Linked DNA regions of Homo sapiens. The protein of the gene in region 7 purifies or fractionates together with the protein of the main gene of each other region. This does not show direct contact. Each region holds a gene or a part of one and is shown on either strand. Other genes may lie near its edges. The genes, in order: ACSL1, HELZ, CAMK2B, PALD1, TXNDC11, PCK1 and ANGPTL7.

Region 1 (4,112 bases), on a different chromosome or scaffold from region 7:
ACAGCACTTGAACCGCTTCCTTCTCTTCTGCTTTTGGTCCGTCTACTGTTAGCTGATAAGTCATCCAAAAGAGGTAGGGGAGAGTCCAGACCAATGGCTGCCATATGTAGAAGCAATTCTATCTCAAAACTCACCTGTAGTTCCACTTGTGAAACAAATTACTGCAAGATCTTCAGGTGCTGGAGGCTAAAGATTAAAAAAAAAAAAAGCTGGTATAAATCAGAACAGAAAAGAGAACTATAAGCCACAAGGTACCAGGCTAGATATTGAAAACTACAAAGAGGACAGAGCAGGGTCTGACACGGTGTGCTTACCTTGGGCTTCCGTCTGTTGGCTCTTCCCAGGTCCTTAATTAGAAGAGAAAAAAAGTCTTAAATGGAAACGTTTTCTAACTGTAAAGGATAAGGTCACATCGAGTCACTTAAAGCTGGCTTTACTGTGGGGTTCATTCACACCTGGCTCGAAAACAGCATAATTTTCTAATTAAAGAAACTATGGCAGTTTTAATTAACCAGAACCAAAATATTTATTCATTGTTCTGAGAAGCCATTTTCCAGTTACCTCTTCTCTTACATAAAACTACATAAACGGTATTAGGACTGGTCTTTGAAATAGGATGTATTAAAAAAACAGCAGCCAAAGTCTTTACCATGCATTTCTGGTCCCCACTTCCACTTCTTATTAGGGCCTTTAATAAAGCCCTGTTCTTAACCATAACGAGATACTGCAGATACTTCGTAGGTTCCTCAAATCAGAGCACAGCACTACCTCACCCCCACATTCTGCACAACTGACATCTGCAATCTGGGAAGAAGAAAAATCAATCTCTGCTCGATTGAAATGCTAGGCATTTTGGAGAGGCTCAAATATCTGCTCAAATATCTCCCCTCGTAGAGTGGAGATAGGATTTGGGAGCCCCCAATTATAAAACAGGCCACAGCAGACCCTCTAAGACTCCTTCCTGAATGGACTTGAAGGTTAAGAATGACAGAAGCATTGCGCGGGGACAGCATTTCCCAGCGGCAGGCTTCCAGTCACTACCACTGATGGGGTTCGGTTTACTGCATTAGGGCAGTCTTGGTGGCCACTTTAATATCTATTAATTTTAACAAATGAACTATTTATATTCTTTTCCTATTCAAATGGAACAGCTTGAATGAGGATATGGAATGAACATGCCATTGAACACGCCATTGAACATGTTCAATTCACGTGGAAATTAGATGGGTGTGCTCAGGGCTTAGTGAGTTTCTGCCCAGCATACATTAAGTTTTCAATCTTAATTACATTTTAAATGATGTAGTGACAGACCACCGATTAAGAACAGGAACTAATATATCCAATTAGAGGTCAGCCAAAAGCTAAAGCAATAATTCTGTACATTTTTTTCAAAATAACCTTTATTAGCTCCAGATTTCTATTTGTCTATTAAAAATTCTTACATAACTTCTGGAGATGCCCAATTCTTCAAAAACTGATGTTAAATAAAATAAAGCACCAGTTACATACAATTTGGCTCTTAATTTATTGGGAACAAACATTATCCAAATTAGTGCACTGTTGCCGCAAAAGTTTCACAGCCTTACATCTCTCTTACAGTATCACTTAGGAAAAATACTGCAATTATTATTATTTTTTGAGATGGAGTCTCGCTCTGTCACCCAGGCTGCAGTGCAGTGGGGCGATCTCTTCACCTTTTGCTCAGAATATTTTTAAAAACTAAGTACAGATCATATTAAACAGGTAAGTGTAAAACAATGTCTTCTATAAATTAATATTTTAATATAAACTTTATATTATAATCTTCAATCAACTAAATAATTTTTAAATTTCAACATTACTTCTTTATCATACAGCAGTCAAAAAACACCAGAAAAATTCTTGCATCTGTGGGAAGGTAAGGGAAAAAGAGATTACATTATAGTAAAAGAGGGTTAAAAGTAAAAAAACAGAAGTGGGGAAACACTAGGTAAGAAGCTATAAAACCCCAATTCAACAAGGAAGCACCCGGGTCAGCACTTGCGGAATCACGTTCGATGCTACTGAGAGAGAGAGTTGGGCAGGGGCGCACACATGCACAAGAGAGAAGGTTCTGTTAGAACACCCGCGCTTCCCTGTGCCTACTGGGTTCCTCAGGAAAGGTTCTACAGATCCTTACTTATAGCCTCAAATTCTTTGTAGGAGGAGGAAAACTACACATAAAAATTTAAAATCCTATCTATAACAGTTTCAGAAAAATATTTCTAACACCTTCAGAAAGAGAAGGACTGACTCTGTTTTCCTATGACTTGTTATGATATGTATATGAAAAGATCTTCCTCCGGCCATGTTCCTTGGATGGAACTCTAATCCAAGTCCAACTGACGGGGATCAACTTCTTATATCATCTGACATCAAGCACCCAAGCTGAGCATGGACCACCACGCTCATTCTCCTGGAATGGCTGCCTTTAAACTTGTGATTGGTATGACTCTTAAGAGTCAATATGAAAACAAACCAAATCAAACATGCATGTTGGAAATTCACCAAGACTCTCCACGAGCCATCCAGGGAAAAGAACGATGAGGCTGATTTCTATACTTGGCTTGGCATTAGAGACAAATTAGTAAGTAAAAGGCATTAAAGCCCAAAGGAGACACAGAAACTGAAAGTTCCACCTGCCTGAAGCTGTAATTCCCATTTCTGGCATTTCCGGGCACAGCTTGTCAGTGCTCTGGAATAAATATTGGAGTGCTGAAAGCACTTGGGTAAGGTGTGAGGTGTTAACACTGGGCACACATGTAGAATCCTTTTTCCAGCAATGAGACAGAAGTTTCTGCTCTCTTTCATGGGTTGCGGAGGCAACCGGCCAGCGCTGGGACTGCACCATAGCACTAGATAGCACTGGATAGCACGTGTGAGCCAACACGGCCCCAGGGAAAGCCTTCAGAGAAGGGAAGGAGGCAGGGCACTCACCTCCATCGCCTTCATGCTGGTGACTTCCACCCCACACCTCTGGCCTCGTTCCACCAGTTCACTGCCGTAGGCATCCATGACAACTATGATTTTAAGGCCTGGTATTAACTTATTTTCTACACCCTCTAATAAGAGTTTGGCCTTCTCTGGCTTGTCAACAAAAACCAGAGAGAGTTCAGCTGTAAATGAAGAGATACAATGAAGAATAAGCTCTGGGATGTTAAAAGATTCACTCTGTCATATCCAGCACAAGGATACTTGAAGTACTACATTCTTTGAATAAAAAGGTAGATATATATTTACATGTAAAATCTTTGTCAAATCAAATGTAAGCAAATGTAAAGTCACTGAACCTAACCAATAACTATGCCAATAATCCAGGCAAAGATCACAGACGTACCTTTGTTGACTATGTACGTGATGGCTTCATTTCCAAGGGTATCATAAAGTGGAACGATCACCATCGAATAAGCAAAGCATCCTTGTTCAATAATCACCCACTAAACAAACAGTAAAGGTCAGGGAGAGAAAACAGGATGTCATCATGTAATCAATAAGGAGAACAATACTCAAGAGAGATTCAAAGTGAAAACATTTGACGCAGCAAAATTAACATCTGTGTTAGCTACTACTCTGTGCCAGGTGCTATAAGGGATTCAGAATGAGAACAAAACACATGCCCCCTTCTTAAAAAGAAATTAAGGCCAGGCACACTGACTCACACCAGTGATCCCAGCACTTTGGGAGGCCAAGGTTGGGGGAATCAGTTGAGCCCAGGAGTTCAAGACCAGCCTGGGAAACATGGCAAAACCCTGCCTCTACAAAAGTTATCTGGACATGGTGGCACACACCATGTCGCAGCTACTTGAGAGGCTGAGGCGGGAGGATTGCTTGAACCCAGGAGGTTGAGGCTGCAGTGAGCTGTGATCACACCAGTGCACTCCAGCCTGGGTGACAGAGTGAGATCCTGTATGTATGTATGTATGCATGTACAAAGAGAGGGAGGGAGGGAGGGAAGGAAGGAAAGAGAGAGAGAGAAAGAAAGATGAGAGGACAGAGAGAGAAAGAGGAGAGATTGAGAAAGAAAAGAAAAAAGGAAGGAAAGGAAAGGAGAGAAAGAGAGAAAGAAAGATAAATTAAAATCCGCCTGAAGAATT
Region 2 (4,112 bases), on a different chromosome or scaffold from region 7:
GGAGGCTAAGGTAAGGAGAATCGCTTGAACCTGGGAGGCAGAGGTTGCAGTGAGCTGAGATTGCACCACTGCACTCCAGCCTGGGCGACACTGCCAAGACTCTGTCTCTCAAAAAAAAAAAAAAAAAAAAAGGAAGAAAATTAATTTAAAAATAATTTTAGGTCGGGTGCGGTGGCTCACGCCTGTAATCCTGACACTTTGGGAGGCCGAAGCGAGTGGATCACCTGAGGTCAGGGGTTTGAGGCCAGCCTGGCCAACATGGTAAAGCCCTGGCTCTACTAAAAATACAAAAAGTAGCTGGGCATGGTGGCGGGCGCCTGTAATCCCAGCTACTCAGGAGGCTGAGGCAGGAGAATTGCTTGAACCCAGGAGGCGGAGGTTGCAGTGAGCCGAGATCGTGCCATTCATTGCACTCCAGCCTAGGTGACAAAAGCGAAACTCCGTCTCAAAAAAATAATAATAATTTTAACTCTGATGCCTCATAAGGAAAGTATTAAAAGCCTTCTAATTTATTTCTGTAGTATTACCATTTTCTAAGTGTAATAATGAAAGACGAAGACACCATAGCTGACCAAGAAGATTAATTACTGTGAAATAATAAATACTCAAGACTAAACTGTTTTTAATTAACAGGTATTTCAGCAAAAAGTAAATAATCTGAAAGACTAATAGTATCAATAGAGGTAGTACAACCACTAGGAAAAAAAGTTCAACCTTTTGTTTCTATTGATATGTTCTCCATATTTAGATCCTCAAAACTGCAGATATATACAGTCATTCATGACACTATGTAAATAGCAGATAACAGGAAAAACAATTCAATACTTAACCAAGTTCACTGGAGCACAAAGTAATCGCCACTCAAGAATGCTGACACAAAAACTGAAGGACCTCTCAAGTTCCAATAGCACGCAGATAAGCTGAGCCCCTATGCAGTTACTCATCTGAACAGAAGTGGAAGATTAACCTACCCTCACTCATTTCACACACTAACCTGACAAGGCAGCAGGCAGTCTCTTCGGAGCTTGTTCATCATTCAGTCTGTTCCAGAAGTAACCGATTCCGTTAGGATCTGTGCCTTCAGGTTACCACTGTTTCACTACAGCCCTGTATCACTTCACCCTTGTCCCACCTTATTCTTTCAGGCATTATAAAATTCTTGTTTTCTAAATAAAGTTCTAAACCTTACTCACCTGCAGTTCACTGCACTGGGTATCACCCAAATAGCCCATCAGAGCTCTTTATAATTTCTGAAAGACAAAGAAGAAAGTTTTTTTAATACATAGTAGAAAACACCATTCACCAAGATATCAGTTCCAAAGCATTTGTATCCAATATTCCCAGCATATGGTCTTTTGGTCCACACTAGTTCAATAAAATGTAGCATGACCAGCACTAGACCAAGAGTCTTGAGATAAGCCTCCAAAGATTAAAAACAAGCTTGGTTTAATGTTGCTACTACTGAGCTGTGTGACCTTGAGCAACTCATTTAATTTCTTCAGGCCTATATTTCCTTATCTGGAAAATAAGTCACTTAGACTAGCTAGAGAAAGAAGAGCACAGGCTTTCCAGGAAGAACACCAGCTCCACTACTTTACTGGTCTCGTGACGTTACATTAGTTGAGTCACACTTAAGCCTGAATTTCTTCCTTTGTAAAATGGAAATAACTATCTCGTGAGTTGCTATGAGAATTAAAGGAGATGATGAGTTATAAAAAGCCTATAGTAAATATACTGTGCAGCTTATCCTAAAATTCAACAGATGGTAATTCATTACTACCATTAACCCCCACCAGCCCTAACATTACATGAATTCAATTCATGCATATTTCTTTTAAAAGATCAACAAATCAAAACTTTACCAACCTGACTAAAGAACTAACTGTTTTCATGTTTCACAATTCAAATTACAGTTATCTTAAGCTGATGGTAGTTTATCATTATTACTTATCACAGAAAATAAGAACAGAATAGTCCCTGCACAACATCCAAACTCTGGTTCAATGACCATGCCTTTTCTGACTTCTCACTCTACTTCCACACTGCCAGAATATCTCAGGAATAGAGAGGTCTTCCAAAAGCTAAATGACACCCAGCTGTTTGCCAGATTCAGCTCAAGGGAGCAGGACTAGAGACAGAAGAAGAACAGAGGCTTTTCTTTTTTTTAACCTTTTTTACTTTACATAAGTACTGCTCAAATTTGTTTACCATAAGCATACAGGAGTTTTGCATAAAAGTAAATAATTTTTTAAAACTGTATTAGTTAAACACGTTGCCTACTGACAGGAAGCTCGCATTATAGGACATTTTCATCACAACAAAGATAATTTCTGCAGAAGGAAGCAAAAAGGCAAATTCAGATGTGACAAGAACACCTAAAATATAGCACAGAAATGACAAAAATCACAAACATTCACACTTCAGAATAGTTCAGTCAACAAAGATGCCATGCATTCTTTGAAGAACCTGACGATGAATCAAGTTCTTTTTTGTTCAAAGACAAGATATATGTATACACTCTGCTTTACCAAACAACTTCCTGCTCTTACTTGGAGAAACTGACCCAGTACAATTCACAAAAGTAAACAAGTTGGTATGACTGTTGGTATTAGTTGAAAAACTTTCCATTTCTTTTGAATAATTAAAAGTTGACCAAAATAGTTATTACATGTATATATAAATAAAATTCTTCCTGTTACATCTACAGTGGTCTTTTAAAAAGAGGAATATTCACTTCTAACAGATTCAAGATTACTGAAAACTATTATCCCAGCCACCCTCAAAGCAATAAACCATCATGTTATATGCTGCTTCTAGCCAATGCTACAGAAGTAACCCTGACTGCACTCATCAACTGAAATGAATGGTAAGATAGTATGGCATACTCTCCACTTGTATCACTTTTCTTCTAGAAAACATTTCAAAACATTACTTAGAAATCCAATTACATCTGCATGTATATTCACCTAAGTTTATGAAAATTAAACCTAAAAATTTGCTTATAATTTTTTAAGTAGTTCCTCCCCATCTCTTGGATAACTGTTGTTGATACACCTGGCCCGAAATCTTCTATACATTTGAAACAACAGGCAAAGGTCCTTATTTCTTGTATGGGGCCTGTATTTGGATCTTAGGGTCTCTGACAGACAATTATAGACTAATCTACATTCAATATTAATGCCAAGCCTACTGCTTAAATAGAGAACACATGCATCTGTAAGATCTGGGCTACTTACTTGTAGGTCCCTCTGCACTATTCTTAGCCTTTCATGAATATGCTGTAGATTTTTTAATTACACGAGGCCCTTTGCAAGTAAAAATGACTTTTCCTGTTGTTTTGGCATCACTCCTCTTCCAGTGAAAACTGGACAGTCTATAAATATATACCAACTTTAAGACAATGCATTTTAATATCTATGGCATTAGAAAATAAAACTTCTTGTTAACAAATGCAATAATCAAGTTTACCAGCTAATAGAAAGGTACTTACTCCCAAAAACTACAGCCTTACCTAAAAATAGTGTCCTAGCTTCCCAGCCAAAAGGACAGACTAAAAAAGCTCTGTCTTTATTCAGCTCAGAGACACAGACTTCTACCTCACCACAACCTTCAATACTATGGCATTTCCCATTTTAGAATACTTTGTGTAACAAGTTGTTCAGTGGCCAACCACTAACTTCGCTTTGAAATGAATACTAACACTTCACAGAGTCTACATGTGTGAGAACTGTGGAAAATGTCTTGACACAATTCAGGTCAAACAACACTAGCCACACAAGATTACCTACTTCTAAGTATTCCATTTTAGACTACAAACAAACATCTCCACAGTCAAAAAGCAGACCACTGGCTCCTTTCCACAAAATTATCTGTAGGCTTCAAGAAAAAAGATAAGGCCAGGCATGGTGGCTCACGCTTGTAATCCCAGCACTTTGGGAGGCCAAGGCGGGCAGATCACCTGAGGTCAGGAGCTCGAGACCAGCCTGACCAACATGGTGAAACCCTCTCTCTACTAAAAATACAAAATTAGCCGGGTGTGGTGGCGTAAGCCTGTAATCCCTACTCGGGAAGCTGAGGCAGGAGAATTGCTTGAACCTGGAAGGTAGAGGTTG
Region 3 (4,112 bases), on a different chromosome or scaffold from region 7:
CGGGAAGCTGCAGGGAAGCGCAGGGCCAGGCCTGGTGGGCCCAGGGGCTGGCTCACGGGAGGGCAGGAGGGAGACTGTGGCGGACAGCACGTGGGGCCAGGAGGTGACCTCCAAGTGGATTGTGGGTGGGTTTTTTGTCCTCTTTCTGCATTTTCCAGGCATTTTGTAATGTGGATAGAATATTTCTGTTCTTCAAAAATACTTTAGTTAAGAAAAATAAGATGGAAGCTGTTGCACTTGAAAATGAGGAAGCCACTGGTGATGCAGGGGGGGCGGCGGAGAGGACCTCTTCTGCAAATAGCGGCAGGAACACGGCATGGATGCAGCTCGCGCTCCCCCAGGCCCTCCCCTGGGCTGTGTGGAGGGGTCCGGGGGGAATGGGCCAGCGCCCAGTGGTCACCTGGCCATGTCTCCCCACAGCCCGGAAGCAGGAGATCATTAAGACCACGGAGCAGCTCATCGAGGCCGTCAACAACGGTGACTTTGAGGCCTACGCGTGAGTCCCTGGGGCTGGGGGGGGGCTGTGCAGGACAAGGATGTGGGACCCTTGGGGGGGCCTGCTCAGAGTCAGGGGTCCACGGGGCCCCTCCTCACTTGGATTTGGCCCCCAGGAAAATCTGTGACCCAGGGCTGACCTCGTTTGAGCCTGAAGCACTGGGCAACCTGGTTGAAGGGATGGACTTCCACAGATTCTACTTCGAGAACCGTGAGTGAGGAAGCCCGGGTGGGCATGAGGGGGCGGTGCCCCCAGGAGAGCCTCTCGGCCCCTCCCAGGGACAGCATGGTGGCTGCCTATGGAAGCCCTGTCCCCTCTGTGCCCAGGGTTGGCCAGCCACCTCTCCCCCGCCAGAGGCCATACCCAGCCCCCAGAATCCCACTCTTGGAGGGGCCCATGCTGCTCCCAGGAGAGCCGAGCCTCCCCAATAAGGGGAGTTGAGAGAGGGAAAGGATTAGGCTGGTGGGGTGGAAGACGGGCACCAGGGCAGTCATGGTAACCCGAGACCCCCGCCCCGCCTGCTGTCCACAGTGCTGGCCAAGAACAGCAAGCCGATCCACACGACCATCCTGAACCCACACGTGCACGTCATTGGAGAGGATGCCGCCTGCATCGCTTACATCCGGCTCACGCAGTACATTGACGGGCAGGGCCGGCCCCGCACCAGCCAGTCTGAGGAGACCCGCGTGTGGCACCGCCGCGACGGCAAGTGGCAGAACGTGCACTTCCACTGCTCGGGCGCGCCTGTGGCCCCGCTGCAGTGAAGGTGAGTGTTCTGTGCTAAGTGACAGCTGGGGCAGAGGGGTGGCGGTGGTGTGAGTGGCTGCAGCCTGGGGAGGCGATGGGGAGCGGTGGGGCCTGTGCAGAGCCATGCCTGGGAAGTCCCTGAGCTTTCCTGGTGAGGCCACAGGAATGATGTCAAATTAGGGACCACGGCAGGCTGGGTGTGGCAGGCCTCCCCAGAGGACTGGGGAGCTGGTGAGGGCCTGAGCAGTCCACACTGGCCAGAGCTGGGTGGGTTGCAGGTGGATGGGCCCCGGGCAGCACAGTCCTGGGCACCATGCCCTGTTTGTGAGGACTGTTAGAGCCCCAGATGGGCGTTCCCCAGGTGGTGGGTGCAGCGGGCCCAGAGCCCAGTTTTACAGGGATAGTAGTAATTGGGTTGGGCACCTTGAACCTCTCTCCCGAGTGGGCCCTTTTCTGGACTTTAACCCTCTCTGCAGTGCCGCATGGCAGACAGCAGAGCCTGGGGGTGGATGGGAGAGGGGGCTGCTGAGGAGCTGACCCACCCGCCCCATTTCAGAGCTGCGCCCTGGTTTCGCCGGACAGAGTTGGTGTTTGGAGCCCGACTGCCCTCGGGCACACGGCCTGCCTGTCGCATGTTTGTGTCTGCCTCGTTCCCTCCCCTGGTGCCTGTGTCTGCAGAAAAACAAGACCAGATGTGATTTGTTAAAAAAAAACAAAAAAAAAAAAAAAAAAAACAAGATGACGACGACAACCACAAAAAAAATTGACATCAGATGAAATGAAAAAAAAAAAAAACAAAAAAAACTAAAGGAAGGAAAAAGCTGTAAAAATCACTGGCATTCGTGGGGCCACTCCCCACCCAAGCTCCACGTGTGTCCGTCTGTGCTCCTGGCCTCTGGGGGACCAGCTGGGACATGAACTTGTCTGCCAGGCCCCCGTCGCGTGCTGAACGGTGTTAGTTTGTAGGTAACGCACACACCCCACACCTAAGGTGTCTGCATCCTCCTGCCAACGCATGGGCTCCACGTGGTGTGCTCGCTGGCTGTCGTGACTGTCAGCTGTCTCTTGGGAGGGGCTGTGGGGGCCCGCTGGGCTGCCTCCTTTCCCGCTAGTTGTGCCTGAGAGTTGCTGTTGTTCCTGCTTTCCCTTCCCTTCCTTTCATCCCCTGAAGGGCTAGGTGTGGGTTTTCCGTGCCCGGTATCCCCACACACCCAGCACGGACAACCCTTCGGCAGAGCCCAGGCCGGCCCCTCACCCCCTGGAGTATTGAAACTGGAGTCCCGTCCCCAAGGCCTTCAGAGATGCCCCTACACACCCAGGGCTCCAGCTCTGGTCCTTCTGGGGGAGTAAAGTGCAAAGAGGGGCACAGCTTAGTTTTGGGCCTCTCGCCGAGCAAGAGACAGCACTGCTGGCTACAGCTCCAACACAGCCAGCTGTGGCAAGAGGACTCTGCCTGGGCTGGCCCCCCTCCTGTGTGAGGTGTCTGTCCCTTCTCTGCTGGCCAGCAGCAGATGCACTGGCAGCTCCCAACCCTGTTTCCGCCCCTCGGCCCTCCCCCAGCCTGTTCGGCTTCTCTGCAGCCCGCAAGGGGGAGCAGACTTTTGACAAAGGACTGCGGGCCTCGCTCAAGTCCCTGAGCCCCCAGCTGAAGCTGGGAGGGGAGGCCAGGCTTTGTGTCTGGGCATATTCGTCTGCTGATGGGGTTTGGGGAAGCCTGGGGCTTGGGGTTTGGTCGGGTGGTGCAGCTAGTGGCAGAGCGGGATCAGAGGTGGTGGCTGCCCAGCTTCTGGGCTGAGACAAGGGTCTGTGCAGGGGTTTACTGAAGTGGGAGTGCCTTTGGAATCTGGGCCGGGAGCAGAAGGGAGCAAAAGCTACAGTGGGAGCCAGCCTAGGGCACATGGGAGGCGTGAGGGCAGTGCTGCCCGTGCAGTGTCAGGTGTGCCAGTGCCTTGGCGGGCTGCAGTGCGTGTGAGGGCACCTTCTAGGTGGGCCAGGGATGCAGCTATGGAGATAAGGCGGGCTGGGGACAGAAACAGGTGGGCACAGGGCCCAGGACACCAGCGGATGGAGGGCAGGGTCTAGCCCTGTGCTCCTGAGCGTCGGCTGCCTGGGTTCGAGGCGGTGGGTCCCCGGCCCCTTGTGATGGTGTGTACCATGGGGGAGCTCGGGGACAGGGCAAGCCCGAGCATGGTGGGGCTGCAGGGTGGGTCTGAAGCCAGGTTGGGTGGGGGTGGTCACAAGCCCTGACTGCAGAGGGTCAGGGGCTCCTGCCCCAGTGCCTGCCCACTTTCAATTCACATTGTTTTCAACAAGGATTTTCTTTATCTTCCCCTACAAATCAAGCCAAGGGAGGGGCACAGAATGGGGAACAGGACACAGGATCCTAAACTCCAAGGGGACTGTCCACCGATGAACACTCAGAGTGGACACCATCTTCCGTCCACGCTGTGCCCAGGACAGCTGTCCCCATCCATGAACACAGGGTAAACATCTGCCGGGCTCCGCACCAGTGGCTCCCTGGGCCATGGGACAGCGGCAGGGCTCACCACGGACAGCACGTGGCCCAGCAGCCGGCCACCCTGGCGTCCTGGGGCCTCCTCCCCTCCTCTCCCTCTCACCTTGTCACCTCCACGGAGCTGCCTGTCTGGGATAATTTGGGGATTTTTTTTCTGGGGGATAATTCTTTTGCATGACCCCTAAAGAGCAAGCCACACCGGTCTGCTAGCTAGGTGTCCGCGGTGTGGTGGTGGCGGCCGCTGGCCAGCGCTGCAAGGGGTCGGCTGCCCACGGTGCTGGCTGGCCTCCCCTCCTCTCTCTTTTTGCTGAGTTTCATTGTCTTTTCTTTCTGAGCCTTGTAAGTGTACAAAAA
Region 4 (3,796 bases), on a different chromosome or scaffold from region 7:
CCACATCCCAGGGAGAGAATGGCAGAGCCACCCCCACCCCCACCCCCCTCCACCCCACCCCGGTGTACACAGCTCTACACTGGTGTCCAGAAGCCACACAGAGCATTCTTGCACCTAGAGAAGACAACTTCCATACCCTGCTGGGCTGGGAAAGAACCCCCGGGGCCTTCTCTCCTAGTCTGGGGAGAACACCAACCCTAGGGGCGGTGGGGGCTCTGGGTTCCATTCTGCCCACCCCAGCTGACCTCGGAACTACAACCTTGTTCCCCTAACCCTGCAAGCATGGGGGAAGAGGCCTGGAGTCAGTGCTGTCTCTACCCCACCCTCCCCACTGACTCTTTAAATGCCAGCACTCAACCAGGGGTGAGGTGTGTTCAATCAACCAGAGGCCCAAAGGGGTCAGGTGGGGCCCACAGGGGTTAGGGGAGAAAGTGGAGGCTGAGATCCAGGCTCCTTCACAGGCCCCCAATTCCACTTTGCTCTATACTGTTTCCCTAGATGCAGCAATCCTTCATATGTTAGTGAGAATTCGCTGGTTCCGTTGCTTTCTTCAAGGAGGAGCTCAGCCTGACATCCAGTGTAAGAGGGTGAGGCAAAACTGGGGATGCGTGTCTGCAAAAACCCGCCTGCTCTAGAGCTGGAAGTGCCAAGAACAGGTGCTCTCAACTCACTCTGCCTGCCCACCCTTACTCTGAAGGGGCAGGGACCTCAGCCTGTTGTACCAGTTCTAGAACGTCTGTCTGACACTAAAGACATATTAGCAGCCAGGTGCACTCACATTTAGCTGTTTTTAATGCTTAAAAGCTCTGTACAAAAAAAAAAAAAATCACAAATGAATCCTCACAACACCCCTGTGAGGTAGGTAGGCAAGTATTATTCTCCCATTTTACAGATGGGGAAACTGAGGCAGAGAGGTGATGTGATCAGCCAGTGGTCCCAACACAGCTGAAAGTCAGAGCCAACCATGAGAACACAAAGGATCCCTCCCCATTCAGTCCCATCTCTGACTCCGCATCTAGACCTTGTCTGCAAAGAAATTAAAACGTCTTAATTCATGCAAAAATAAAAACAATAAACCTGAAAAGGTAGTGAACAGACACACAGTAGTTCTGCAAAAGAATTCAGCCAAGGGGGTCAAATATTTTCCAATACTGGATAAATGGGAACAACTTCGGCCTCCTCCCCTTTTCAAATATCATGACCAATGACACATCCTTTTTTTTTTTTCCTGCAGAAGTACACGAGCCTAACCAAAGACAGGCTTTCCTGGTCCCAGTGAGCCAAGCAAGGTGGACAGCCTCCTCACTGTTCAGCTCCTGGGTTTCAGCAAGCACCAGTCCCCAGCTGGAAGAGCTGCAAGGCTCAACGCAAACATGGCACTTCTCTGCCACCTGTTCCCAGCAGCCTTCCCGCTGTGTGGAAACAGTGGATCCCAGCAGCCTCTAACTCAGCAGGGTCTGGCCTTTTCTGCTCCCACCGGAAGGCAGGCTCAAAGATGCTCAGCAAGGATGGCCTGGAACCCAGGTGATCCCCTCCCACCACCCTCAGTGCACCCTTGCACACCTCACTGTCCATGAGGACCACCCCAGCAACCACCCTCAGCTAGCACTCCTTGGGGCTCCTGCTGCAGCAGGTGGGGGCACCAGGCCATCCTGGGCTGCCGGGACAGAGAGAGATGCCGGGGGACCTGCAGCTCCAGGCCTTGGCTTCCTCTGTGCCTCCTGCCCAGGTTCCCAGACAAGTGGAGCAGGCCTCTTCCTCTGTGCTGCGTTCGCCCCCTGGAAGCTCTTTCCTCCCCATGAGAGGGGCTCCCTGAAGTCTCCAGCTCCTTGAGAAACCTCCACCATCCTGCCAGCCCCACCAGGCTGGGTAGGTTGTCATTCCTGAAGTCTCCCAGGTCGGAGATGGGGGCATGAGAGTCCAGAAAACTGGGTGAAGCTGCCTTTCACATAATAGATCTATCCAGAACACTGTCCCCTCCACCCACCTCAGGCTGCCAGACGCCCGAGGGCAGTGCTTGGGCAGCAACAAGGGGAGCGGCAATGGCAGAGCAGCAGGAGTAAGGAAGTGGGGAGCTACCAGTGGCCGGGTCTGCTCTGTGCCAGGGGCTGCCAGGCCAATCTGAGAGAGGGGAGAAGAGGACAGAGAGATCCACAGTGTTTGGCAACTGGGGGAGTGAGCCCCTTGGAGGCTGAACGCCGGCCTGTCTGCAAGGTACACACAGCAGTGTGCACCTTGTGAGCACTCCAGTGAGTGCTCCTCCCTGGAGGTCAGCCACACACCTTGGTGGTTTGCAAGGGATGGCTGTGCTGTCTCCCTGTCCTATAAAAAGTTCTTTCTAAAAAGGCTCCCAACTCCGCTCAGTCTCTCCAGGAAGTGGGGGAATCATTTCAAGGCCAGCACCCCTCAGGGCCGCTCCCAGCCAAGAGCACCTCAGACACCCCAGGCCTGCGTGGGGCCCTGTGGGTGGGGGGACAGGGAGTAAGGCCCCCTACAGCAAGTCCTCGGGGGCAGAGGGCTCGAGGCTGCAGCTCTGCTCCTGCCACCGGTAGCGCAGCCTGGAGAAGGGCTGGTCCTCCCCGCTCTCCAGCTCGGGGAAGCCCAGCTCGTTAAGGATCTCGTAGATGCCAGCCTTCGATGCCACCTGGGAGGAGAGCAGAGGCAGGAGCAGTGTTTCAGGGGAGGGAGGGTGCCACTAAGGCCACTGAGTTCTGAAGATGAGTCTGTGGCCTGTGAACTTGGTGACCTGAACAAGTTTGCACCTTGACTTCTGTTAACTTCTCTGAGCGTCAGTTTCCTCATAGCAAGGAAAAGACTCTACCTCACAGGACTGTCTCAAGGAGGACTCTACACATACAGAAAGTACTGGGCAGACAGTGAGTGCTCCACACAGATAGCAGCGAGGGAGGCCAGGCACACACTGGGCCCTGTGCAGCTCGATGCTCCCACGTGGACGCCCAGGAGCAGGGCCTAAAGGGAGGGCTGGAGGAAGAACGTGGATGCAGGGGCAGGTAAGGCTATGGCCTCTGCCCCAGGTGGGCTAGCTGGAGGCACCCCTGGACACTCAGCCCTGCCGCCCAGCAGCCCAGACCCTGGCACCAGACTCAAACCATCCACAACCAGTCCCCTTCTCTCTCCACCATCCTGGGGAAGGGGAGGGTGCAGCCTCCACTTAGAACAAAGGAATGGGTCCGTCCCGCTCTGGGGCCTCCCTCACTGCTACCCTCCACTCATCCGCAGGAGAGAGGGGCTGAGGTCCCGAGGCTGGAACCCACACTTCTGCCTGGACCGGCAGCCCTCCTTTCTTGACCTCCCCCAGCCCCAGTGGGGGATTCAGCTGGGGAGGGGATCAAGCTTCCTCTCGGCCCCAGGCTCCCCCAACTTCTGCTCTCCAAGCAGAACCCAAGCAGGAAGTGTCCTCATCCCCTTCCACCTCCACCCCTCCCCAGGGGCTCGCAGAGGAAGCTGAGCCCAGGCCTGCTCAAGAAGGCACCCCGACATGGCCTTGGTGTGACCCCATCAGGTCTCCCGACTCAACACACATCACATGCACCGGGGGCATTTCAAATGCTTCTCCACCTGACGTCCCAAGGCCCACCCTCAAAGCCTGCCACTCTGCCTCCACTCCTTCATAGCCCTGAGTCCACTTCACACCTGCCTCAGCCCCCATACCCTTCCTGTGCCCACTCTGGCCAGGTCACCGGCCCCTGCTCTCCACCCACCCACTTCCCAGGAGCTAATTCCAGCCTCCAGTCCAGATTAGAACTGCCAGGATCTGCTGGTGAGGTCTGGAGGG
Region 5 (4,112 bases), on a different chromosome or scaffold from region 7:
TACAGAGCACAGAGTTAAGTACACCACCTTACACTTACCTTTAAAACAAAAACAGTAACTCTGAGAAAGTATTCCTGTATCCGAAAAAACCTGTACTTGAACCTTCCATGTAAAGGCAGAACCTCCAAGTTACTGGCCAAAAAGTGGGGAAGAAATCTGAAAATGGTCTTAGTGGTCCCTAAGCAAAAACTGGCTTCTTACTACAAATATTAAAATACAAACATCTAATATCCAGAGGAAAATGTGGGGGTAGAGATGGGGTAGAAAAGTGTGTTTTTGCCCAAATACTACCTAATAGTTCCTGGGAGTCAATACTATGTGCCAGACAACAGTTTATGTTACAGACACGGAAATGGGATGGAATGTGACAGAGAACCCACAAATCACTGTTTGTGCATGTTTGCTATAAATCCCCATTGATTATGGCCCAAGAACTTTAGAAGGAAAAAGGAAAGCTCTCTACTGATCAAATCTCCTTTACCCATTTTACTTTCAACAAACTTCAAGCCAATCACCCTGAACAAAGTCCAAAGTCCTATCTCCTATCTCCAAAACTCTTTGAGTCAGATTTTTAGACATTACTTATCATTCACAGCAGGGTCTGGGCTGTACTCTAGTACAGCCTAGGTCGAGACCAGCCTGGCAACATGGTAAAACCCCGTCTCTACTAAGAATACAAAAATTAGCCGGGCGTGGTGGCAGGCACCTGTAATCCCAGCTACTCGGGAGGCTGAGGCAGGAGAACGGCTTGAACCCTGAGGCGGAGGCTGCAGTGAGCCGAGATTGCACCACTGCACTCCAGCCTGGGCAACAAAAGCTAAACTCTGTCTCAAAATAAAATAAAATAAAATAAGATAAAATAAAACTCTTTCCGTTTTTCAGCCCTCTTTGTGACTTTAGAATTGTGGACATGGGCGGTAAAACCCTGTCTCTACTAAAAATACAAAAAAAATTAGCTGGGCAGGGAGGTGGGTGCCTGTAGTCCCAACTACTTGGGAGGCTGAGGCAGGAGAATGGCGTGAATCCGGGAGGCCGAGCTTGCAGTGAGCGGAGATCGCGCCACTGCACTCCAGCCTGGGCAACAGAGTGAGACTCCGTCTCAAAAAAAAAAAAGAATTGTGGACATGGGACTGTGTACTTGTAGTAATTTTCTTCCCAATAGAATAGATGGTAAGATACACTCTGGACTCTGCTATGCCTCCAGATGAAACGATAAGAAATTTTGTGTATTTTTACAAAACACTCTTACGATATCTGAAATGCATTGGAGTAATTCGTACTTTTAAAAACAATGCTGTAAAATGTGTAATGACATGAAAAGATGCTCAAAAAAGTGAGAAAAGCAGTTTAGGAAATAGTATTACTGCCTGATCCCATGTTTAGCTTTAAAAAGGGGGGTGGATTATCCAGATCTTTCTTTTTTAATTTTTGCTTATCTGTATTATCTGAATTTTCTATAGTGAATATCTAATACTTTAATATAGAAAAAATGCAAAATTCATTTATAAACTGGCAAACTAAACTGGAATGAGAGACGCTATTTAAAAAGTTCTTACCTCCGATGATACAGATATATTACAGGAAAATAAAAGAAGTGTTTCTGTTTTCTGCATTTCCCCTGGTTCCACCAACAGTTAATTGCCACAAACAACACCTGCAGAGCCAAAAAAGGTTTTCAAATGACTATGAATAACAACTGAAAAGTTACCAAGATTTAAAAGATGAAATTTAAAAATAGAATGATTCCTCTCTCACTGAAACAGAAACTATGAAAAAAACTGTTTTGAGTTTTCAAAGGTCATAATTTATCACTAAAACAAAAAAGAAAGACATACTCTTATCTATGATGTCCAGGCAGGACTTGGACCGTGTTTACCAATCTTACCATGCAATACAGTTCAAAAGATTTCTGTGTGTTTCCAAAAATAAACCCACTTTTTTCCCTACTGAGTACATGGAATAGTAAGCTCTCAATTTGGAAGGAGCTGAAATTTTTTTTTTAAAAAAAGCAGCAGTCCCTGGATTGCACTACAACCCCCACCACTACGTGATGGTAAACAAACTGCTTCACCCCTTATGCCTGCAGTCCTGCTTCAGAAAAACAGGGCTGACAGCATCGCCTTGCAAAGTGGTTGAGAATTGGCATGGGGCCTGGCACACCAGAATATCATTATTATTATACTAATGCCATCACTCAGAAGGACATACTGCTTAGGCTGACAGTAAGGTAGCTAATTCACACTTATTAATAAAACACAATAGATATCCCTCTTGTGCCCAACATGGGCAACGTGAACTTTGTTCTCTAAATTTGGAAGGCTCCACAGTTTCTAAGAAAAACCAAATGACAGTTCCAAATGAACTTCTGGAACTCAGCTGCCTACACACGTTACTTCACATCAGTGGTTCTGAGCAGGAGAGTCTTAGAAATCTGTGGGATGCTTTTGGCTTGCTACAATGACTGGGGGAAGCTACAGTGCATACGTAGGGCAGGGGTGTTGGTAGATGTCCTGCTACACTCAAACCTGCTTTGCACACGGAAGAGTCGTCCATAGCATTCCAGAGGAGTTCAAAACGCCTGCCAAACACTGATGTTGGGGAAAACCTGTTATTATCAAAGCCCAGTACCTAGCTCCATTTTACATGTGAATCTAAAGCATGCTTTTTGTGTTCACTGAATTTTTCAGGAATGCAACTTCTATGTAAACTGAGAGCAGAAAGGGCTTTGCATAGTTCAGGATTTTACCAAGACTGTTCACCATTTAGGATAATCAATTACTAAGAGCAATGTCCATGTGGCAGGTAAGTCACCAACATATCACCTTTATCAGTCTACGTTTGTAACTATCCCATTCAGTGATTCTACATAAAGGTATATGGACCTGTTCTGACTGTGCACTTACATACTAAAATATATATCATTTAGTTACAAATTACTTTCTTCCCCCCTCACCTCTATGTTACAATCCGTGCATTAGATTATTTTGAAATTACATGTATAGGAAAACTTTATCATCTATGAATTCCTTTTTAGGAAGAAAAAGGGACATCATAAAATACTTATTTTCTAAAGCACAACTGGGGTCCACTGGGCTGAAAACCACTGCCATAACAGGTGACTTATTTGCCTATATATCTTTCTTACCTAGCCCAAAGGTGGCATTCCTTATCTGCTGAATATAGTTCTGGTCCATATATTAAAAAGGTCGGCCTTGTTACAATGCAGTCATATCATACATACATTTTCTTACCTAAAATACCTAACTAGCAAGTATCAAATGGATATGCAAGAACTAGGATTTTCAGTCCCTCTACCTTTTTCAATGCTGAAACCAAACAGTATGGCACCCCAGGATAAGCATTGGCTTGTGTTATGAGATTCAGAATCTGCTCCCACACTTGCCTTGGAGTACAATCGCCACAATTGGAAATCCTTTCTGTTGCTTTATAGAAAGCTCTGTAACTTAGAAACGACTCCTGGAGTTCACCTTGGCAAAGTCTGCCCGTTGGGCAAGGTGTCTCTGTGGGGACATCCTGCCCTACATATAGGACTGACAGTCATTTGATTCTTAAGCTGAATGTGAGCATTACCTGATCTGAAAGCCGACTTGCTGCTTGCTCAATTTCTGCCCTGGCAGCGATGGACTGTCCACACCAAGGGGCATAGAAGAAGAGCAGTACCACCTCTGAATCCCGTCGAACGTACTCTGCATAATCCAGCTGCCCCTGGAAGAGGTCAAGGACTGGAGACCTCAAGGAGAAAAAGCTGACAGGTGGCTTTGCTGGTATTATCACATCTTTTGCTCGACTAAAAAAGAGCAAACACAGAAAAGATTGCTTAGTTTATCTTCTTCTAAAAATAGCTCTGTGGAAGTAGAATGAAGCTTAAAAGGAAAATCCTCTTTTGAATAAGAAAATGGAGTCCCAAAATCACTGCCCTAGAAAGGCAACATCTGGCTGAGCAAATGCAAGACATGAATAATACGTTGGAAACAATTCTCTGAGATTCTGTCCCCTAGGTGTAGGCTGGAAGGGCAGTGGAGAGCAGAGAAGGATGTCTCTGAATAATCCATATTCCTGCTCCCCACATCCCAAAGACTTCATCCTCCTTT
Region 6 (2,868 bases), on a different chromosome or scaffold from region 7:
GTTAAAAGGCAAAATCCTATGAAACTGTCCACAATGTAATTTTTGTGGAAGCCTGAGACCCCTCCAGATCCAAACTGTCAAAAAGCATGCATTAAACCCTCCCAGTCCTGCCACATAAGCCTCACCATCTAAAGGTTTGTAGAATTGTTAAAGGATGCCAACTAGTGGCTTCAGCAAATTCAGAAAACCCCAACCATGGTTCCCTGCCTCATTCCTCCCCATCTGCTCCCTCCTTCTCCCTGGGACCAGGCAATGCACCCCCTCTTCAAGTGTGATTCTGAACGTCCCCACCTTCTTGGGGAGGGGGCAGGATTTAAATCACAAGATATTTAATCAGAGTTCTCTCCTCTTGGTAGCTCAAATAAGAAAAACCAAGCAAAGCAAATCCATCTTTTCTATAAAACTTCATTTTGTAATTTTTTTCCAAGAAGTAGTAAGGGGGAAATATTGCAATTATGTAAAGGTAAGGAACAATGGTGTATAAAAATAATTTAAGCACAATATTAATAACAAAGCAACTTTTTTTCAAGGAAAACTAGTAGGTCATCTTGCCCAAGATTTTTCCAAAGGTATTAAATATATTTTCAATAACAGTACATACAAATACACATACACAAATATACCACACAGACACATGTGCACATACATGCACACACACACACACACACACACACACACACACACATATATATATACAGCTCAAGTATTTTTTTGGTGTGCATTCTAGCTAATCCACATAGCTAAAGTGAAAAAACACTGAAAAGATCAATGCCTGAGTAACCTTAAATTTGAACAAACTATGCATTGGATGTGAATTTTTGGAGGCATGCTAAGATTTCCCTTCTCAATTTCATTAGCTACTACCCAGTGTTCTGTGGTTCTTATCCTTAAAAAAATCAAAGTGTGCCTTTCAGATCTGCTCACGGTGTGGTGATGATTATTATGGTGGCGTCAATTTGGGAACACTTGCCCTCTCTTGCTCCTACTGCACCTTATGGATGGGAAAGGGAATGATTTTAAAGGTAAAGCACTCAGGCCCTGATTACATCTGGCTTATTCTTTGCTTCAAGGCAAGGATCTCTCTCTCGATTTCACAGGGGAGGTCGGCATTGACTTGATCCTCCAGATACTTCTCGATGTCTTCCACCTCCTTCTCCCAGAATTCCTTGGAGATGCTGAAAAGCTCCATCATGTTGATGTGCCCCAGGCCTTTCAGGTTCAGGGCATCCTCCTTGGGGATGTAGCCTATGGGCGTGAGCTTGGTGCTGGCTTTTCCATCGATCCGGTTGAACATCCACTCCAGCACCCTGGAGTTCTCTCCAAAGCCTGGCCAGAGGAATTTGCCTTCCTTGTCCTTCCGGAACCAGTTGACATGGAAGATCTTGGGCAGTTTGGCTGCTGGGTGCTGGGCCATGCTAAGCCAGTGGGCCAGGTATTTGCCGAAGTTGTAGCCAAAGAAGGGCCGCATGGCAAAGGGGTCATGCATGATGATTTTGCCTGTTAAACAGAGAGGGAGTTCATTAGTAAATGAGGCTCTCCTAGGCAAGACTGACGCCATTGATTGTTGACATTAGCATGCTTTGTTCTCCTCTCTCTCTTTCTCTCTCTCTCTCTCCCCACACACAGACACAGAAAAGGAGAGAGACATAAGAGTGACGAAGAGTGCTCTAATCCCACTTCTCTGTGGTTTCAGATCAGGACTTTGATTTACCTTTATGTTCTGCAGCCGCTGTGGCCTCTGATCTCATGGCCGCCCCCACAAAGACTCCATGTTGCCAGCTGAGAGCTTCATAGACTAGAGGGACACCTTTAGCAGGAAAAAAAAAGAGAAATGTTCATCAGAGGCTTTGAAATTCAGACTCCACAACCAGTGGTGTTATTCACAACACGGAAAGACACGGCAAGACAATAACTTTGTAATCGAGCTAGTTTTGCGTTCACCAAGCTAAATTGCAGAAAACTGCTAACTCAAAGTTACATGACTGAGGCCACAAAGTAAAAAGTAAAATTTGATCAAGCTACAATAGATCAGGGATTCAGAAAGGTTCCAGGTGACCAGAAGGGTTGGTTCTACATTTGAACTTGCCAATTATTCTGGATCTTTGGGAAGGAAGCTCAAGAAAGGAAGCCCCTGGGCACCCTCTGACAAGGTCATGGAAAAGGAGAGATTTCACAGATGCCCTTCGGTACCCAGCACACCCATGTTCCCAGCCTAAATGAAGGAGAGCCTCACCAGCAGGTCTACGGCCTCCAAAGATAATGCCTTCAATGGGAACACCTTCCGGAGACTCCCAGGCAGCATCAATGATGGGGCACTGGCTGGCAGGGGTGCAGAACCTCGAGTTGGGGTGGGCACAAGGTTCCCCTATAAGACAGAGAAAGGCTCGTGAGTGCCTGGCTCAAACAGGCAGTCCCTGCAGCCCGGCACACCAAGGCCTCTGGCAGGGACACACCATCCTCTGAGCTCCACTCCTTATTCTTCCAGGACGTGATGGTGACACCTGAAGCTAGCGGCTCATCAATGCCTTCCCAGTAAACGCCCCCGTCGCTGGTCTCGGCCACATTGGTAAAGATTGTGTTCTTCTGGATGGTCTTGATGGCATTGGGGTTGGTCTTCACTGAAGTCCCAGGAGCGACACCGAAAAAGCCATTTTCTGGGTTGATGGCCCTTAAATGACCTGGAGAGTTTTAAACCAGAGAAGCAGTAGTGAGTGCCAGGCAAAGCAGAACATATACTCTTATATATTGCCGGACTAATTTCTATGCCAACTTCTCAAATCTTTTTTCCCTCCCTAGAATATGCATTTATCTCTTTTCATCCAAGCATCATATGCAACTTTGATACGTTTACGACTCTTGCTTCCTCCA
Region 7 (4,739 bases):
GTTCAGCTATTTCTTTTCTTTTCTTTTCTTTTTTTTTTTTTTAGATGGAGTCGCGCTCTGTCTCCAGGCTGGAGTGCAGTGGCACAATCTTGGCTCACTGCAACCTCCACCTCCTAGATGCAAGCGATTCTCCTGCCTCAGCTTCCTAAGTAGCTGGGACTACAGGCGCATGCCACCATGCCCAGCTAATTTTTGTATTTTTAGTAGAAAGGGGTTTCACCATGTTGGCCAGGATGGTCTCACTCTCTTGACCTCGTGATCCACCCGCCTCGGCCTCCTAAAGTGCTGGGATTACAGGCGTGAGCCACCGCGTGCAGCTATTTCTTATTTTTTTGTCTTTGCTTTAAAAAACTGTGTTCTGTTGACAGTATTGTTCTCTTGCTACTAGTTCAATCCGTCTTGCAACCTATTGACTTTTTTAACCTATCTGCTACAGGGCAAATTAAATCCGAGATGTAATCCCAAATCAGGGCTAACACTGAGATAGTATAAACTACCCCCATCTCCTTAAAGCTCACATATCAGTAAATATATTTGCTTTCTTGGGGACAGAGGATTGAGTGGTTATTTGTTAGAAAGCGCACACACACCACTTTTACTTGGTTAGCCCCGAGCATTAGGGTAAGGTCTGCTGGCCTGTTTTTGCTTCTCTATCCTAAGTAGAATAGAGGGTCTGATAAGGCTGGATGCCTTCACTGCCCAGCCCCAGACGTGTAATCCCCTTTATGAAGAATTGTCCTGGTTGCTGCCCTTTTGTCCCTTACCTGTTCCCTTTTGGCTTCTGCTCCCCGCTTGGTTGCCCTGAACACCAAAACAAACCCCGGGCCTCTGTCACTGCTCACCCTCTGATTTAACTTTAACTTTTTATCCTGCTGTAAGTGGTAATGGTAAGAATTTAAAAAGAAGATACTCACATTTTGAAAGTGTTTATTGTAGAAGGAAAAGAAACGTTGAATGTTTAAAACAAAACCACAATATTTTATTTTTACAAAGTGAGATGCTTATTTACAGCATTTATTATTAACTATAACACCATCTACCTTCAGTTTTCAACCATTTCCTACAGACAAAATTTAAAAGGAAGCTCCTTGAGCTTGTTTCTTACAAAGTAAATAAAAATAGATATACCTGTATTAACTATGAATATTTTAAGGCAGTTTTGTGCCGGCATCCATGAGAGACTCTGTCCACCTCCTGCTGGTGCTTCATTCCTTTCAGTGCTGTACATGACCAAGGCGAGCAGGGGCAGTGCTCAGAGTCTGATCGCCAGATGCAGTGCCCTGGAGTTTCCTCCCCGCAAGTCCAGCCTGGGTCAGTTCCAGCCGAACAATTTTTGTGTTTTAAAAATAATGTGTAGACTCAAGATAATTTCACTGGATTTAAAAATAGAAATACCATTTCCCACCTGCCTCCTTCACTCCTTTCTCTAACACTCAAAGGCCTATCCTTTGAGAATCAAAATAATATGGTTCTTTTTAGCAAAGGGATTTGTGTTTTGCCCTCACATAGCCTAAGCCGTAGAGAAAATAGATAAAACGATCTCAAAATTATTTTCTTTCACAGACAAATCATGTGGAAAAGACAAGCTACTGCTATGTCAGGGATCTTGGGCAGAGAGACCCCACTCAGTCTACCACCTTGAGAAGGATGTGGCAGGACCCAGTGGGTTTAAATAGTTCATCCTGTTTACTGTAACATCCTTGGTACATATGATTTTTTTGTGCTCCTTGGAGACTTATTCTTTCTTTGGAGATTATAGGCTGTTTCTCAGTCCTACCCTTTCTAACACTCTCTTCCTGTCCTCATCTGCCCTCATCCAGTCTCCACGTGTCTCAGTTTCTGTATCCGTGCTCCACGGCAGCCTCCTTTTAAGGCTTGAAGTCTTCTGGGCGGATTTTCATCTCCACCCGTTTGAGGGAGTAGGTAGATCCATGCCAGCCATACCAGGTGATGCCATCCAGGTGCTTATTGTGCTCACCCAGGCGGTAGTACACTCCATTGAGGTTGGAGTCTGTGCAGCAGTTGTACCAGTAGCCACCTGGCATGAGAAACAGACCCAGTGCTAGTAAGTTGACTGTGATAGACCAGACATCAGGTAAGGAGTTAGAGCCAGGGTCAGAAAGAATACCAAAACCGGAATATCAACTGTACAGTTATAATTCACTCTTTCTCCTCAAGTGGGATTATGAGCTTGTACCTGAACTTCTCCTTTCCGGTCCCCCCAAATCTCACCTTTGCGGAGCTGTGCACACTTGTCCAAGCAGTTGTCATTGTCCTTGTCCTTGGTGCTGAAGGCTGTGTTGTTATGATACTGGAGGGCGTCGTTCCCCACATTGCCAGTGTAGTTCCCCAGGAAGAGGCGATAGCTGTTGAGTTCATTGCCCAAAACAAAGTGGCTATACTCAGCGTAGCGCAGGTTGCCCTCCCAGTCCTGTCAGGAGGAGCAGAGCCTTAAAGAAAGTGCAGCAGGCTCCATTTCATGCTGTCTCTATACCCCTTCTCTCCTGACAGTCCCATAGCCAAACATCTTTTTATAGGTGTGAATCTAATAAGACTTTATTACTTGTTTACCTCCAGTTTACTGTGTTAACCTGGGAATCAGAAAACAAGGCTCGAACTTCTTTCCTGATTCACCATATGGCCTTGATTAGTCTCTCTTTCTATATTCCTCACTTTCCTGCTTATAAGGTGCAGCTATGTTTTTGCTGAATCCCACACAGAGCTGCTGTAAGAGAAACATGAGGATATAGTGAGTGCTTTCAGACCTTCAGCAAGGGTCCCCAAACAGTATCAGTAAGATTTGCACCTAAAGGACCTCATGCTCGGCCAGAGCAGAGACTAGTGTTCGGCACAGCTGACTGTTGAATTTGCTCTACTCTGGCCTGGGTCTGGCCTCTTCCTGTCCCACCTGCAGCCCCACTTTTGTCGGGGGGTTGGGGGGGTTGCAGAAAGGAAAAATACCTATTTTTCCTCAACTCCATTACAACTTGCAGGAAAACCATCACAATGAATATACAGATTTGTCTTGAATCAGAATAGGAATGGCACCCCCGGAGTTGTACGCGGTCATGTGTGGTGGCACTGGTCCAGTCATGGGGCCCCTGGCCTTGTGCTTACCTCCATCTCTACACGCAGCCGGGTTGGCTGTCTGGAGAGCCGGTGGATGTGTTCGTTCCCCAGCCAGAAGTCCCCACGGATGCTGCCAAAGCCCTGCTTGTACTGCTTCCAGTCCCGGTAGAAGGAGACAAGGCCACTTTTTCGTCTCTGGATGATGGTCCAGCCTCCGCCTGAAGTCTCCATGTCACAGAACACCTGAAGCAGAGGGGATACTCTGGTGAGGGACTTGCAGGGGCAGAAGGCAGGAGCAAGAGGGCAGGCTTCCCAACCTGTTCCTGTCCCTGCAGAGCCAGTAGATGTGTGCACTCCCGCAGTCACACTGGCTCACTCGGGCAGTGATGCTGCCCCACTGCTGGTGAGCTGGGGTGGGTGGTGCATTGCTCTGGAAGAACGATGCAAATTGGGCCCGGGGGTGAGTGCACATGAAGCTTGGAGGGAAAAATCCAGATACTTTTTTTTTTTTTGAAGCAGAATTTCACTCTTGTTGCCCAGGCTAGAGTACAGTGGTGCAATCTCGGCTCACTGCAACCTCCACCTCCTGAGTTCCAGTGATTCTCCTGCCTTCCTAGTAGCTGGGACCAGAGTGCCTGTCACCACACTGGGCTAATTTTTGTATTTTTAGTAGAGACTGGGTTTCAGCATGTTGGCCAGGCTGGTCTCAAAGTCCTGACCTCAGGTGATTGTTCCGCCCACCTCACCTCCCAAAAAACTTGGGATTACAGGTGTGAGCCACCATGCCTGGGTGAAAATCCAGATAATTTGATGCTGCCTTCGTGTTTTCTTTTCTCCTCCCCCAAGGAATAGCTGTTCTAGGACATGGCAAGAGATTTAAACTAAGTTATGTGGTGGTTATAAGAATGATCTGATCTATGTTAGAAGGCTTGTTGTTTGACTGATAATGATTTGAAGGGGCCAAACAGATGCCTGGGTTTGGAGTGCAGGGCATAAACTGAGTGTTTGCATAGCTCTGTGGTGTTTGGTGTGTTTGCTTGTGTTTGAGTTTTCCTTTTTTTTTTTTTTTTTTTTAATTGAAATGGAGTCTCACTTTGTCTCCCAGATTATAGTGCAGTGGCGTGATCTCGGCTCACTGCAACCTCTGCCTCCTGAGTTCAAGCAATCCTCCTGTGTAGCAGGGATTACAGGTGCCCACCACCATGCCTGGCTAATTTTTTTGTATTTTTAGTAGAGACAGGGTTTCACCATGTTGGCCAGGCTGGTCTTAAACTCCTGACCTGAAGTGATCCACCTGCCTCGGCCTCCCATAGTGCTGGGATTACAGGTGTGAGCCACTGCGCCCAGCCGAATTTTCCTTTCTTTAAACTGTGAATGGCCCTGTTGTTGTAGTCCCCTTGAGGGGGTGAAGGACAGGTATTAGGGCATGGCCAGTGACTGTAATGACCTCACCTCCAGTTCAGGGCTGCCCAGGAAGTCATCAGGAGGAAGCTTATACACTCCAGAGATGCGGTAGTTCTTCTGGTAGAGGGAAGAGCAGTCGTAGATGGCATCTACAAGAGAACAAACCACAGGGTGAGCATTTAGACCCAGTGGCTCCATCTGAGTTGAGTGTTTAGAGACTGAGCCTTTATTTCTACCCTGGGATTCTCAGTGGTGTTAATTACCCA

The links.
Region 1: the proteins of ANGPTL7 (region 7) and ACSL1 purify together in Homo sapiens (co-immunoprecipitation; one large-scale study listed by IntAct). This does not show direct contact.
Region 2: the proteins of ANGPTL7 (region 7) and HELZ purify together in Homo sapiens (affinity purification with mass spectrometry; one large-scale study listed by BioGRID and IntAct). This does not show direct contact.
Region 3: the proteins of ANGPTL7 (region 7) and CAMK2B purify together in Homo sapiens (affinity purification with mass spectrometry; one large-scale study listed by BioGRID and IntAct). This does not show direct contact.
Region 4: the proteins of ANGPTL7 (region 7) and PALD1 purify together in Homo sapiens (affinity purification with mass spectrometry; one large-scale study listed by BioGRID and IntAct). This does not show direct contact.
Region 5: the proteins of ANGPTL7 (region 7) and TXNDC11 purify together in Homo sapiens (affinity purification with mass spectrometry; 2 studies listed by BioGRID and IntAct, with this or other methods). This does not show direct contact.
Region 6: the proteins of ANGPTL7 (region 7) and PCK1 purify together in Homo sapiens (affinity purification with mass spectrometry; one large-scale study listed by BioGRID and IntAct). This does not show direct contact.

Annotation. Positions count from the first base shown.
Region 1 is NC_000004.12:184,773,529-184,777,640, forward strand, and holds part of ACSL1 (long-chain-fatty-acid--CoA ligase 1), read right to left. Parts: intron 3,456-4,112; coding exon 3,356-3,455; intron 3,135-3,355; coding exon 2,956-3,134; intron 1,888-2,955; exon of another isoform or gene 1,842-1,887; intron 348-1,841; coding exon 315-347; intron 187-314; coding exon 135-186; intron 1-134. UniProt on the Homo sapiens protein: Catalyzes the conversion of long-chain fatty acids to their active form acyl-CoAs for both synthesis of cellular lipids, and degradation via beta-oxidation. Preferentially uses palmitoleate, oleate and linoleate.
Region 2 is NC_000017.11:67,238,240-67,242,351, forward strand, and holds part of HELZ (probable helicase with zinc finger domain), read right to left. Parts: intron 1,251-4,112; 5' UTR 1,194-1,250; intron 1-1,193. UniProt on the Homo sapiens protein: May act as a helicase that plays a role in RNA metabolism in multiple tissues and organs within the developing embryo.
Region 3 is NC_000007.14:44,217,210-44,221,321, reverse strand, and holds part of CAMK2B (calcium/calmodulin-dependent protein kinase type II subunit beta), read left to right. Parts: intron 1-420; coding exon 421-496; coding exon of another isoform or gene 497-500; intron 501-611; coding exon 612-706; intron 707-1,027; coding exon 1,028-1,260; 3' UTR 1,261-1,262; intron 1,263-1,799; 3' UTR 1,800-4,112. UniProt on the Homo sapiens protein: Calcium/calmodulin-dependent protein kinase that functions autonomously after Ca(2+)/calmodulin-binding and autophosphorylation, and is involved in dendritic spine and synapse formation, neuronal plasticity and regulation of sarcoplasmic reticulum Ca(2+) transport in skeletal muscle.
Region 4 is NC_000010.11:70,565,429-70,569,224, reverse strand, and holds the end of PALD1 (paladin), read right to left. Parts: intron 2,645-3,796; coding exon 2,492-2,644; 3' UTR 775-2,491; downstream 1-774.
Region 5 is NC_000016.10:11,732,426-11,736,537, forward strand, and holds part of TXNDC11 (thioredoxin domain-containing protein 11), read right to left. Parts: intron 3,809-4,112; coding exon 3,592-3,808; intron 1,655-3,591; coding exon 1,557-1,654; intron 1-1,556. UniProt on the Homo sapiens protein: May act as a redox regulator involved in DUOX proteins folding. The interaction with DUOX1 and DUOX2 suggest that it belongs to a multiprotein complex constituting the thyroid H(2)O(2) generating system.
Region 6 is NC_000020.11:57,563,979-57,566,846, reverse strand, and holds part of PCK1 (phosphoenolpyruvate carboxykinase, cytosolic [GTP]), read right to left. Parts: intron 2,679-2,868; coding exon 2,454-2,678; intron 2,366-2,453; coding exon 2,234-2,365; intron 1,808-2,233; coding exon 1,712-1,807; intron 1,498-1,711; coding exon 1,043-1,497; 3' UTR 1-1,042. UniProt on the Homo sapiens protein: Cytosolic phosphoenolpyruvate carboxykinase that catalyzes the reversible decarboxylation and phosphorylation of oxaloacetate (OAA) and acts as the rate-limiting enzyme in gluconeogenesis.
Region 7 is NC_000001.11:11,192,153-11,196,891, reverse strand, and holds the end of ANGPTL7 (angiopoietin-related protein 7 precursor), read right to left. Parts: intron 4,623-4,739; coding exon 4,522-4,622; intron 3,313-4,521; coding exon 3,118-3,312; intron 2,726-3,117; coding exon of another isoform or gene 2,648-2,725; exon of another isoform or gene 2,483-2,647; intron 2,432-2,482; coding exon 2,233-2,431; intron 2,039-2,232; coding exon 1,869-2,038; 3' UTR 911-1,868; downstream 1-910. UniProt on the Homo sapiens protein: Has a role in the formation and organization of the extracellular matrix.